2 separate regions of the Homo sapiens genome follow, and region 1 is linked to region 2. Evidence: fine-mapped expression QTL. A gene starts in region 2. The other region holds a variant in brackets. All regions are shown on one strand. Distances are from middle to middle. Region 1 has its middle 27 kb from the start of CDK14. Region 2 holds the start of CDK14 (cyclin dependent kinase 14).

Evidence for each region. PIP is the estimated chance that this variant, and not a neighbour inherited with it, causes the effect. A credible set is the group of variants that fine-mapping cannot tell apart.
Region 1: its variant is the best candidate, but not a certain one, in a credible set for the expression of CDK14 in whole blood (TOPMed, PIP 0.67).

What each region holds. Positions count from the first base shown.
Region 1 is chr7:90,566,208-90,571,589 of GRCh38, reverse strand. No RefSeq gene overlaps it. Among named protein-coding and RNA genes, the nearest start is that of CDK14, 27 kb to the left of the region's middle. The variant A/G (reference allele first, on the strand shown) is at 3,100.
Region 2 is chr7:90,592,973-90,598,354 of GRCh38, reverse strand. It overlaps CDK14 (cyclin dependent kinase 14), which reads right to left and starts at 2,034. Exons shown (of 15, transcript NM_001287135.2): 1 at 1,637-2,034. The coding sequence starts at 1,727. RefSeq lists silencers at 1,397-1,446, 1,507-1,706, 1,897-2,206, 2,227-2,426.

The sequences.
Region 1 (5,382 bases), 27 kb after region 2:
AAAGTATATAATGGACAGCCTGATGGCTATACTTAATATTATACATTGATAATTTGTTAAGAGTAGATTTTAGGTGCTCATATCACACACACAACACACACACAAACAAACACACACACACAAAAGGTAACTATGGAAGGTGATGGATATGTTAATTTGTTTGACTGTAGTAATCATTTCACTGGATATATGTATGTCCAAACATCATGCTATATACCATAAATACATACAATAAAAAATAAATTAGAAAGTAGGATAAGGCATCAAATTGCTATACTATTTAGATCTCACCGTATAGATATCAACGAATAATGTGATATTTATTTTTTAGATGTCATTAGTTATATCAGAAATTATATATATGTAAGTATATACAACTCTTGGTAAAAGAGTTGTATATAAAAAATTTTATATTATAAAATTTTAATGTAAAATTAAAATGATAAATTTTATGCATCAATTTTAAAATATATTACTTTTTAAGATATTTTAGGACTGCATGTGTGAAAATATCTGGAGACAATGAACAGAGAAAATTAAACATTAGACAAGAAAACGATCAAAGAAAGAACAGACCCACTGTTGAGATTGACTATGCAATGCAATATGGTGACAAAGGAGCTGTCTACTCACATTTGATTTTGTGCCCTTTATCAAAGAGAAAGATCAGAATGATTGAATGAACATTGGCAAAAGGGAAGAGAAGTTCAAGATGGAAAAAGAAATTGTAACAGAAATTGTACCCATCTCCCTTGGGAACCAGCAGAGGGGAGTGAGAATAGCAAGGATTTGAGTCAGACAAAATTGACTCAGAATTCTGACACTGCCAGTTAATATCTATGTGCCCCTGGACAAGATGCTTCACTCACCTAATCTGTATTATGGACATAATGTGATTTACAACGGAGGGTAAAATTTCCTAATGGATCTAAAGTGCTTTGCATAGGGTCAAGCTCTGCAAAACATAAATAGTGGCTTTTGTAATTATCATGTAGCTGTAGACTTTGGAGCAATTTAACCTCCTTGAGCTTCACCTTCCTCCTCTATAATGCAGGAATAATAACATCTACCTCCTAGGATTACTGTGAGGATTAAATTGACAATAAATATTTATAACACAAAGAAGGCATTCAATAAATATTAGTTCTGGCCAGGTGAGGTGGCTCATGCCTGTAATCCCAGCACTTTAGGAGGCCAAGGTGGGCAGATCACAAAGTCAGAAGTTCGAGACCAGCCTGGCCAATATGGTGAAACCCTGTCTCTACTAAGAATACAGAAAAATTTAGCCGGACGTGGTGGCACATGCCTGTAATCCCAGCTACTTGGAAGGCTGAGGCAGGAGAATTGCTTGAACCCAGGAGGTGGAGGTTGCAGTGAGCTGAGATCGGGCCGCTGCACTCCAGCCTGGGTGACAAAGCAAGACTCCATCTCAAAAAAATAAAGATTAGTTTTTTCCCCAACCCCTTCCTTCTCTATTTTCCTATTGATTTGGACAATTCTATGGTATCCTTGATGGGATATGATGAAAAAGAGACTAATTCCAAATGCCTATTTATGGAATAGTAATATATTACTTTTATTATGTCTACTAGTAAAAAAACTAAACCCGAAATGATTATTTTTGATGAGACAAGTGGCGAGGGTCTCATACTAAGAGTGAATCTATCCTTGTAGACATGACATTTCTGCTTTACTAGCAAATCTCATTAATGACAAAATTATGTTCATGAAATTGAGGAAGACAAATATGCTGCTGATCTATGACCATGTAATCAGTCCTCTCACAAAGAGGACCTCCTCACAAAGAAAATAATTCTTCCTACATGTTTCCTTTTCTCCTACAAGTGAAAAGATAAAGCATTTATCAATTGGTGGGAATAAATGCTGTTAATTAATGTGAGTCACTTACTTTAGAGGGTACAAAGCATGCCCTCTTTTTGTAGCTTTGCATACAAAACAAAACATAGTTTCAGATGAGCTTGGATGCCCAGGAGGAAGTTAGGGAACCAAGCTTCACTGAACAGGCAGGGAATATGTTTAAGGCTACTTCCGCCATTTTAATCTGTAGGTCAATGTTCATTAATTTCTTTTTAGAAACAAGCTGTCAAGTTGCTGGTCCCTGTTGAGGACAGGGGTATGATGAATAGTCAAAATGCATAAGCAGGCCTTCTATCAGCCAAGATCCCAGCAGGAAGCAAATGACACACTCCAAAGGGGTGAAAAAATTATTGTTGAAGCTAGATACTGGGTACGTGGACGTCTGTTATACTATTAACTATTTATGTTTGAAATTGTCCATAATAAAATATACACAAACAAACAGAGCAGTGTAAAAGAGAGACTAATGAAAGAATAACTTACACAGATGTGGACAGAGGTTAAAGGAAAATAACAAGGGAAGGTGAAATCTACTTCCCTTCTCTGGTGACGCCCCCGCACACCCCACCTACCCTCAGGAGTGCTACCCACAGTACGGAGTGCTACCAGGAGTAGGCTTGAAGAACAAAGGAAAAGGGGGCAACTCCTGGAGCCCAGGGAGACCTGTAGCTGCAGGACATGGCCACCCATCAGGAATTGTGGACTTCGGTGGAAGAAAGAGTCACTATTAACCAAAGCCCACTATATAATTTGAGCAGCCCAGTGCAAGTTGAAAAAAGCAAGAAAAAAGTGTGGTAAAGGTACTAAAGTATAAAGTTTTGCTTTCCTTCTGCCGTCTCTTTTTCTTTCCTCAACTTGTCATGTTTCTAAAATTTTGTATCTAACACTATTCTAAATAAAGAGAACATTGAAACTGCTGGTGAAAAAATATAAAACAAAAAAAAGAAAAAAGAAAACATTAAAACTTTAAATTATTAGCCTGAATTCTACCATTTATCTTGTGCAATGCCAATTTTAAATGCCATTATAAGGGCATTTAACTATCATGCAGAATCATGAAAATTATACACTTACATTTCATAGTTTGTACATATATACATATTTTGTTCCTAGTGAAACAGTGGAAATAGTGCACAAAACTAACTCGACTGTTTCATTTCACTTTCTTATACTCATACAGTATTCCAACACTCTACTTTCAGCTTACGGATGAGGAAGGAA[A/G]GACTGAAAGGAAAAGGAACTATGGCTTGCCCTATCTTCCCCTTTCCTTCTATGACATCATTTTTAGTGTAAGTGGTTAGGAAGTAACAGAGAAGTAACATGAGAAAGAAACGATATGATGAGGCTCCTTGGTTGTATGTGTTTCTCAAATTTCATTGCCTTTTTTCTGAATTTTAAGCAAGTTGTGGTTGAAATAGAAAGCATGACATCTCGGGGCTTTATCAGCTGGACCTTGTACTTGCTTTGAGTCTCCCTGAATTCCTTATGTAGTGCATGGGTACATAGGCATTCTATGATCGTGGGGACACCGTAAATACTATATTCAAACGGAGCAACTGGAAATTGCAGACACATATATTTCATGTAACCCCTCTGTTCACATATATGCTCCACTTTCCCTTTGATTTCACTTACAAAACACACATTCAAAGATAAAATGACATACCTCAGCATCACACAATATACCCTTATAATGAACCTGTACCTGTACCCCCTGAATCTAAAATAACAGTTGAAATTTTTTTAAAAATATAAAATGAAGAATTTAAGACCGTGACAGAAAAGCATTAAACCAAGCACAGGGCCCTTCTTAAGAATGGGGTTCTATTGACTCCATAGTTTGCACACCCATGAGGCCCACCCTGCTGCCAACCCATTGTCAGAGAAATCAACACTCTCCTCCAGTCCTCCCATCCCCTGCAGATGATCTGGCCAATATGGTGAAACCCTGTCTCTACTAAAAATACAGATCTCACTGATGGACCACAACCTGATGGCAAGGGAGCCAGGGAAGCATCCACAGAGAGTAGCCACCTGGGCGACAGACTAGGGAGAGAAGAGCGAAGAGTAGGTCTGGAGGGGCAAACAGAATATGCAGCACCAGCTGCTAGCCCCCACATCAATTTCCAACAAATTCTATTCTTTTGTAATCCAGCTAGGATAATAAGGGGCAGGTAGACCTCAGGAGTGGGGCCTGGTGCATATGCAGTTATGAGCCACTTCAAAATAAATAAATACATAAATTAATTAAACCACAAATATCAATTAGGCATGAAACTGATTATTAATTCAGATTGAGAAAAGAAATCAGTTAGTCTCTTTCTTCTGAGGTCTCTAGGAAATTTAACAGAAATGCCTATACAATTCTGTTTTCTAATTGCATGCTGGCTTCCCCTCCTCACGTGGAATACTTTACAACTCCAAGCAACTCCCACCACTCACAGAGGCCTGGGGAAATGAGGAGTCCTGAAGCTTAAATGTTATTAGCTTTATGGTAAATTCCTCTGTAGACCCAAAAACTAAGAACATAAGAACATAGTATTAAGTAACTGTGGAGAAGCAGGCATTCCCTAACAGGTTGTGATGTGCCCCCTTTCCCTACCGTGCATACCAAAGGCAGTGAACCACATTTCGGGCTCTTCTGACCTAGCATTGTTTCACTGCAGTTAGGAAGTTCCATTGAATTTCACTACATAGGGAACTGGTAAGGTAATGGATAGTCATGGCCACTCCTTTGCATTCTTGATGTCTTGTCTATTCCCTGCATTGCTTGCTGGGTTGGAATCAGGCAAAAGGCAAGCTACCTTAGAAGTCACTGTTCTCATTCACCCTGAAATCCTGGCCAGATTTTGTGCTCTGGCCTAATCAACAGGTTTCTATTTAGACATAAAATATGACTGAGCTTATCTCATAATAGCTGTGGCACAGTGGAGGCAGTTTAGATTCGGAAAAAAGAAGGAAAAGGTCAGTTAAACGGGAGGGCTGCCCTGGATGGAGTTCCATGATAGGACTTAGGAGCCCCAGACACCAGAGCCACAGCCCATGAGAGGAGGGAAAATGGTGGACAGAGACAAAAGAAGGGGATGACAGATATGTACAGGGAAATGGAAAGGTGTTAAAGAAAGACTTCAAACTTTGCCCAAGGCCCTAGTGTTGGTGAACTCACTGCTTGCATTTGATAAATATGGGGAAAGCTGCTGGTATCTGAACTAAGAACATGTCTTATTCTATTTGGGCTGCTATAACAACACCGTAGACTGGGTGGCTAAAACTACAGGTATCTATTTCTCACAGTTCTGGAGGCTGGAAAGTCCAAGATTAAGATACCAGCAGATCCGGCCAGGCACAGTGGCTCACGCCTGTAATCCCAGCACTTTGGAAGGCTGAGGCGGAAGGATCACTTGAAGTCAGGAGTTTGAGACCAGCCTGAGCAACCTGATGAAAACCCATCTCTACAAAAAATACAAAAATTAGCCGAGCATGGTGGTATGTGCCTGTGGTCCC
Region 2 (5,382 bases):
CAATTAACTATAATACCCCCATTTGCCAGCACTGTACTTAATCCAAATTTTACTGATTGTCGATCAAAACCTTGAAATTATTTAAATATAAGGAACTTTTAGATTAATGTCCTTGGTTTCTTACTGAGACTCAATTGCAATGAATTATTTAACACAAAACTGGAGGGGCTCCAGCAGAATCATTAGCATTAGTAAATATATAGTTAATGTGTTTTAGAACACGGCTTAATGGACTCCAGAACCCGCCTCTGCGACGGTTTGGGTCAGGGTTGAAACATCCTCGTTAATAATGCACACGACTCAACATTTCCCTCTCTCACACTCTTCTTGGCTTCAAACTTCATCTTAATGCAGGGACTCTCCACATGTATCCCTAATTCTGAAGAGTGAAATTAATATCCAATACATGCAATAAATAAAACTAAAGATTGGTTTCATACCATAACTTTACAGTCATCTGGGGAAAGATTTTGCATACCAACACAAAATTTTAAGTCGAAAGACAAAAAAAAAAAAAAAAACTTGGCTAAATTTCGATCCATTGTACTCTCTCACTTGAAGAAAGTTTGCATATCTTACAATGAATGGGTGGAAGGATATCTGTAACACTCATGTGCATCCCAGGGTTTTATTTTAAGGAATTAAGTACCTTTATGTTTAATTTCCATTAACACTTTCGTTAACATGGATGACATTTAAAACAAGTGAAACAAAGACTAGGCAGCTTCCTAGGGACTCGCAGGGGTTATCTTTTGTGTCTATAGCATTCTCTTGCTCAGGGCAGTTACATGTTATTAGTGAAAGTTGTGACAGTAGGGGAGGCAGCTAACTCTTCAGGTTAAAAGGGGTTTTCTATGCCCAGTACTCAAAATCTAACAAACCCATTCCACGTGATACTGCTGTCACCCTATTACAACCTGTGACATGCATTTATTCGTCACTGTCCTAAACACTGTTGGTCAGTTGGTTTGTTGTTTGGTTTAAAGACAACAGCCCCTGAGCTCTATTAAATGGAACAAGTTCGAGAGACATTCCTAAATGTCCAGACAACTCCACAGCGCGCATTTCTCTCCAGCAGCGGGAAGATTCAGAGACCTCGAGACTGAACACCCAAATCTCGCTTTCCAGGACCCGAAGTACCGAACAATAGGTCCCAAGGTAACTGTCCCACTTCCCTTTAGGTTGGATACGTTAAACAATACCAGGGCACAGTCTAACGTTTCACCAATTTCCAAAGCTAAATTACTGACTAAACGCCCAATATCCAAGCCTGTGCGCAAAAAATAACAAGTGGCCCAAGCAGCCGCGCAGCCCCTTGCGCGGTGGGGGCCGAGGGGTCCCCTCGCCCGTCCCCCACGCGCGCGAAAGGGCGAGCACTAGTGGCGGAGGAGGGGAGAACCCATATTGTAGGCTTGAGAGAATCTACAAATGAACCCCCAGATCCTGAGGAAGAGGGGTCTCTTTCCTTTACGTCCTTGCCCTCCCCCGGGTCCCTAGCACTGTGCCCTCGATCCCCGCCTACAACGCACCCCACGCCAGCCCCGCTGGCAGCTGCATGGCTGGTGCCAGGAACGCGGCGGGGGCGCAGGCCGAGGGGAGCGGGCGCTGGGGGGGCCGGGGGCAGCGCGCTACTCACCAATGCGACTGAAACTCTCCGACAAAGTTCTCCGCAACTTCTTCATCTTGCCGATCTTCTCGGCCGGCTGCGGCTCAATGAGGTCACACATCTGGGCGACGCGGAGCCCCGACAACTTCCCCAAACTGGTCCAGGCACAGCTCAGACAACGGCGAGGGCGCGCGCCGCGGGGAAAGCGGCGCCTCCTCCTCCACCACCTCCTCGGCGGGCCGGGAAGCGACGCGCAGGTCTAGGGAGGCGAGCAGCAGGCAGGCGGAGGACGGCAGGCTCCGCTCCGGCCTGGGCCGCAGCTGGGCGGGCGGGGGCGGTTTACGTGGTGCCGGGGGCGGCCGCGCTCGCCGCCGCCGTGGTGGCCCCGCGCCGCGCCGCCGCCGCCCGGCTCATTTTCCCTCCTTTGTAACGGAGAGAAGCGCGGCCGGCAGGGGGAGTGGTGCGGCCGAAGGAGGAGGCGGGGCGGGCCGGGTACAAGGTGCGGGAGTCGCCTGGCGCCGAGTGCGCGGGGCGAGGGCGAGTGGGCCGGCGGGAGAAGTTCTCAGCCCAGAGTTGCGGGCGCAGCGCAGAAGGAGCCGCGGCGCGGAACCGCCAGCCTGACAGCTCCTGCTGCCCTCCTGCTGCCGCCGCCACGCCCCTCCCTCGACGAAGGCCCCTGGGCGCGGGATCCTAGCACGACCTCGGCTCCCCGCTCGCCTCCCGCGTCCTCCGCGGCCCTCTGTGTCTGGCTCGCGCCCCGGCGGCGCCCCCTCCCGGCCGCGCCCCTCCCGGCCGCCCCCGCGCTCCTCCCCCGCCCCGCCCGCGCGCGGGAGGATCACGAAGGGACCGGGGTGGGAGCGGGCAGCGTCTGGGGACAGCGTGTTGGGCTGTGGGGAGGTTACCGAAAGGAAACGGGCCGAGTCCAGTTGTTTGAGCGGTTTTCTCCTTCCACGAGCGTGTGTGAAAAAGCGCGGAGTTCGGTGGAGGGCAGCTGCCAGGACTGCCTCCTGGACTGGGTGCGGTAAGGCCTTAGGGATGCATTCAGATGTAGGGTGCCTTATTTTGGGCCGAGAAAGCTGTCAAGTGAAAGATCCAAGGGGAAAGGTGGGCCTGGATTTTTTTGTTGTTGTTTGCGGTGGGTTTTTTGTTTGTTTTGAGGTCAAGTGCAGAAGCAGCGGAAGCTTCAACTGTAACCCTCCAGAAGGCAGGGATCATGCTGTTTCCCTCATCCTTGTCTCTGATCTTGGTGACACATGTAGGTGATTTCTGATAGGAATACCCAGTTCTGCAGTAAATAGCAGACACAGCCCTTGGTCTTTTTCTATTAAATTCTTAGAATATATTTCTGAATTGGGAGATTTAAAGGCTAAACAGATTCCGACCTCCTTTTCCCCCACCTCAAAAACAGAACTTTAAAAAGGAGTGGGGGAGGTGTTTATAAAATCCCAGGACAAACAGTTCCAGCAGCGAACACACATCGTCTTCATTCTGAAAAAACCTGGTGCGGCGTGAGTTCCAAACGTCAGTCTCCCAGGGGAGAGAGAAGGAAGGTGGGGGAGGGCTTGATTGTGTTGATCTGAGGCCAGCAAACTCCTTATGAATAGAAACGTTAGTAATCTTGAGTCATTTGGCTGTGTAAGTAATAAGAGCTTGTGAGGGTGTGACAATGCTGTTTGGCTTGTAGGAAATTTTGGGGAGTTTATGTTTTGTTAAAAGATTTTTATCTTAAAAACTAGCCCCCTGCCTTCCTTAAATTGTGAGGTAAAACAGTGATTTGTTCCGCCCTACACTGAGCACATTGTAGGATCTTGATAGATTGCGGATGATAAAAGACAGGAAGTCAAGCTAAGTGGGGAGCAGAGGGGGGCAAGGAATTCGCCAGGAAAGACCATATGAGTTAAAACGCAAAGCTGTTGGATCCTGGCTGCCATGTCTAGATAATTACAGACAGCACCAAGGGTGGCCTCATACCGGAAAAAAGTTTGACTTTTACCACTTCCTCAGGTTAGTTAGGGAGAAAGTTTTCAGCAGTTATGAATGAAAAGACAAATGCAACCAATCAAAACACTAATGGGTTGTACGAGTCAACAAACACGAAGAAATATTAATTTAACGAACTTTCACTATTATACACCTGTGACTGTTATCCACTGTGACAATGGCTGTTTCAAATATATAATATGTTAAATATATGTTTATTTTACCTTCGCAGTATTTTTTTTTTTTTTTCCGAGACAGGGCCTGTCGCCCAGGCTGGAGTGCAGTGGCGCCATCTCGGCTGACTGCAACCTTCTCTCCTGGGCTCAAGCCATCCTCCCACCTCAGCCTCCTAAATAGCTGGGACTACGGGTGCGCACCACCACGCCTGGCTAATTTTTGTAGAAACGGGGTTTCATCATGTTACCGACGCTGGTCTCCTACTCTTGAGCTCAAGCAATCCGCCCGCCTTGACCTCCCAAAGTTCTGGGATTACAGGCGTGCACCACCACCATGCTCTTCCCCTTCCCAGTATTTCTGACTTAAAAAAAGTAGTCAGCTTCTTCTTAAATTATGGTAAAAGCATACAAAGGTATGCACCAATTTTCTTAAATGAGATCAGTGTGTACTGATGTGTGAATATGTACAGGCTAATTTGGGAGAAAAGCATGTTTAATATTTTAAACCATTTGTGGAAAAAATGTATACACATCTATGTGTTCCTATATGCATAGAATATTTCTGGAAAAAAGAACAGAAAACTGTTGATTGTATATCCAGAACAGAGAGAACTTTTCCCTTTGCAATTTATACCTTTAAGTATAGTTTGAATGTTCTAAGAATGCTTTACTTTTATAATAATAAAAATACTAATATAAACATAATGAATATTTTCCTTTTCCCTACCCCACTTCAAAACTTCAGCTCTCCCAACTCCAGAACAACTTCCTCTAGTTACAACAGTATACCTGGCAGGAGAAACACCTGTTAAGCCTGGGCCAAATAAAGCTTGGCAATTATGAGTAACCAACTTTCCATTATATGCTCATCTTGCTCCCTTTCCTGGTTATATTTTAAAAGAGCAAATTTTGCAAGAAACTGCAATGCAAAGAAGGACATTTTTAACTTGACGCTTTTAAGATATGTATACTTATTCAACTCTTTCTACTATTATTTGTTTCACATTTGCCTTCATCTTAAACAGTGTAAGTTCAGGGACCCTAAGATATGAAACACACAGTGCCTGTTGCATAGAGAATGTAAATTAATGTTTGTCAAATAAATATAGAATGGATTGCTATCTCTGAGAAGTGATGTGTTGTCCTTGGAAACAAAGATGACTATCCAGCATCTGTGTAGCATGTTTTTTCAGTAGGAGAATGGATCTGTGCCAGTTCTCCATCTCAACTTCTGGTTTACAAGGTTATAGTTTTGCATGGCCTGAATTAAAGGTGCAGTGTTCAAGTACAAAGAGATAAGCTTATCTAGAGGCTGAACCCAACATGGGTTGACCTTAACCAAATTCACCAATTAAAGGATACAAGTGTATTGGAGTTCAGTAGTAACAAAAGTGGCTGGGGACCCAGGACTCATGAGTTCTAGTCCCTACTGTCTATCACTAGGTGCATTGTAGCCTTAGACAAGTAAGTGATTTACCTATTTTCTTATCTATAAAATGAGGGGCTTGAACTAGATAACCTCTAGGTCCATTCATAGCTGCAAAATTCTAATTCTAAAGTTAATGGTGAGCCAGAAGCAATTACCCATACCTACAGTCTCAGCTACTCAGGTGGCTTAGG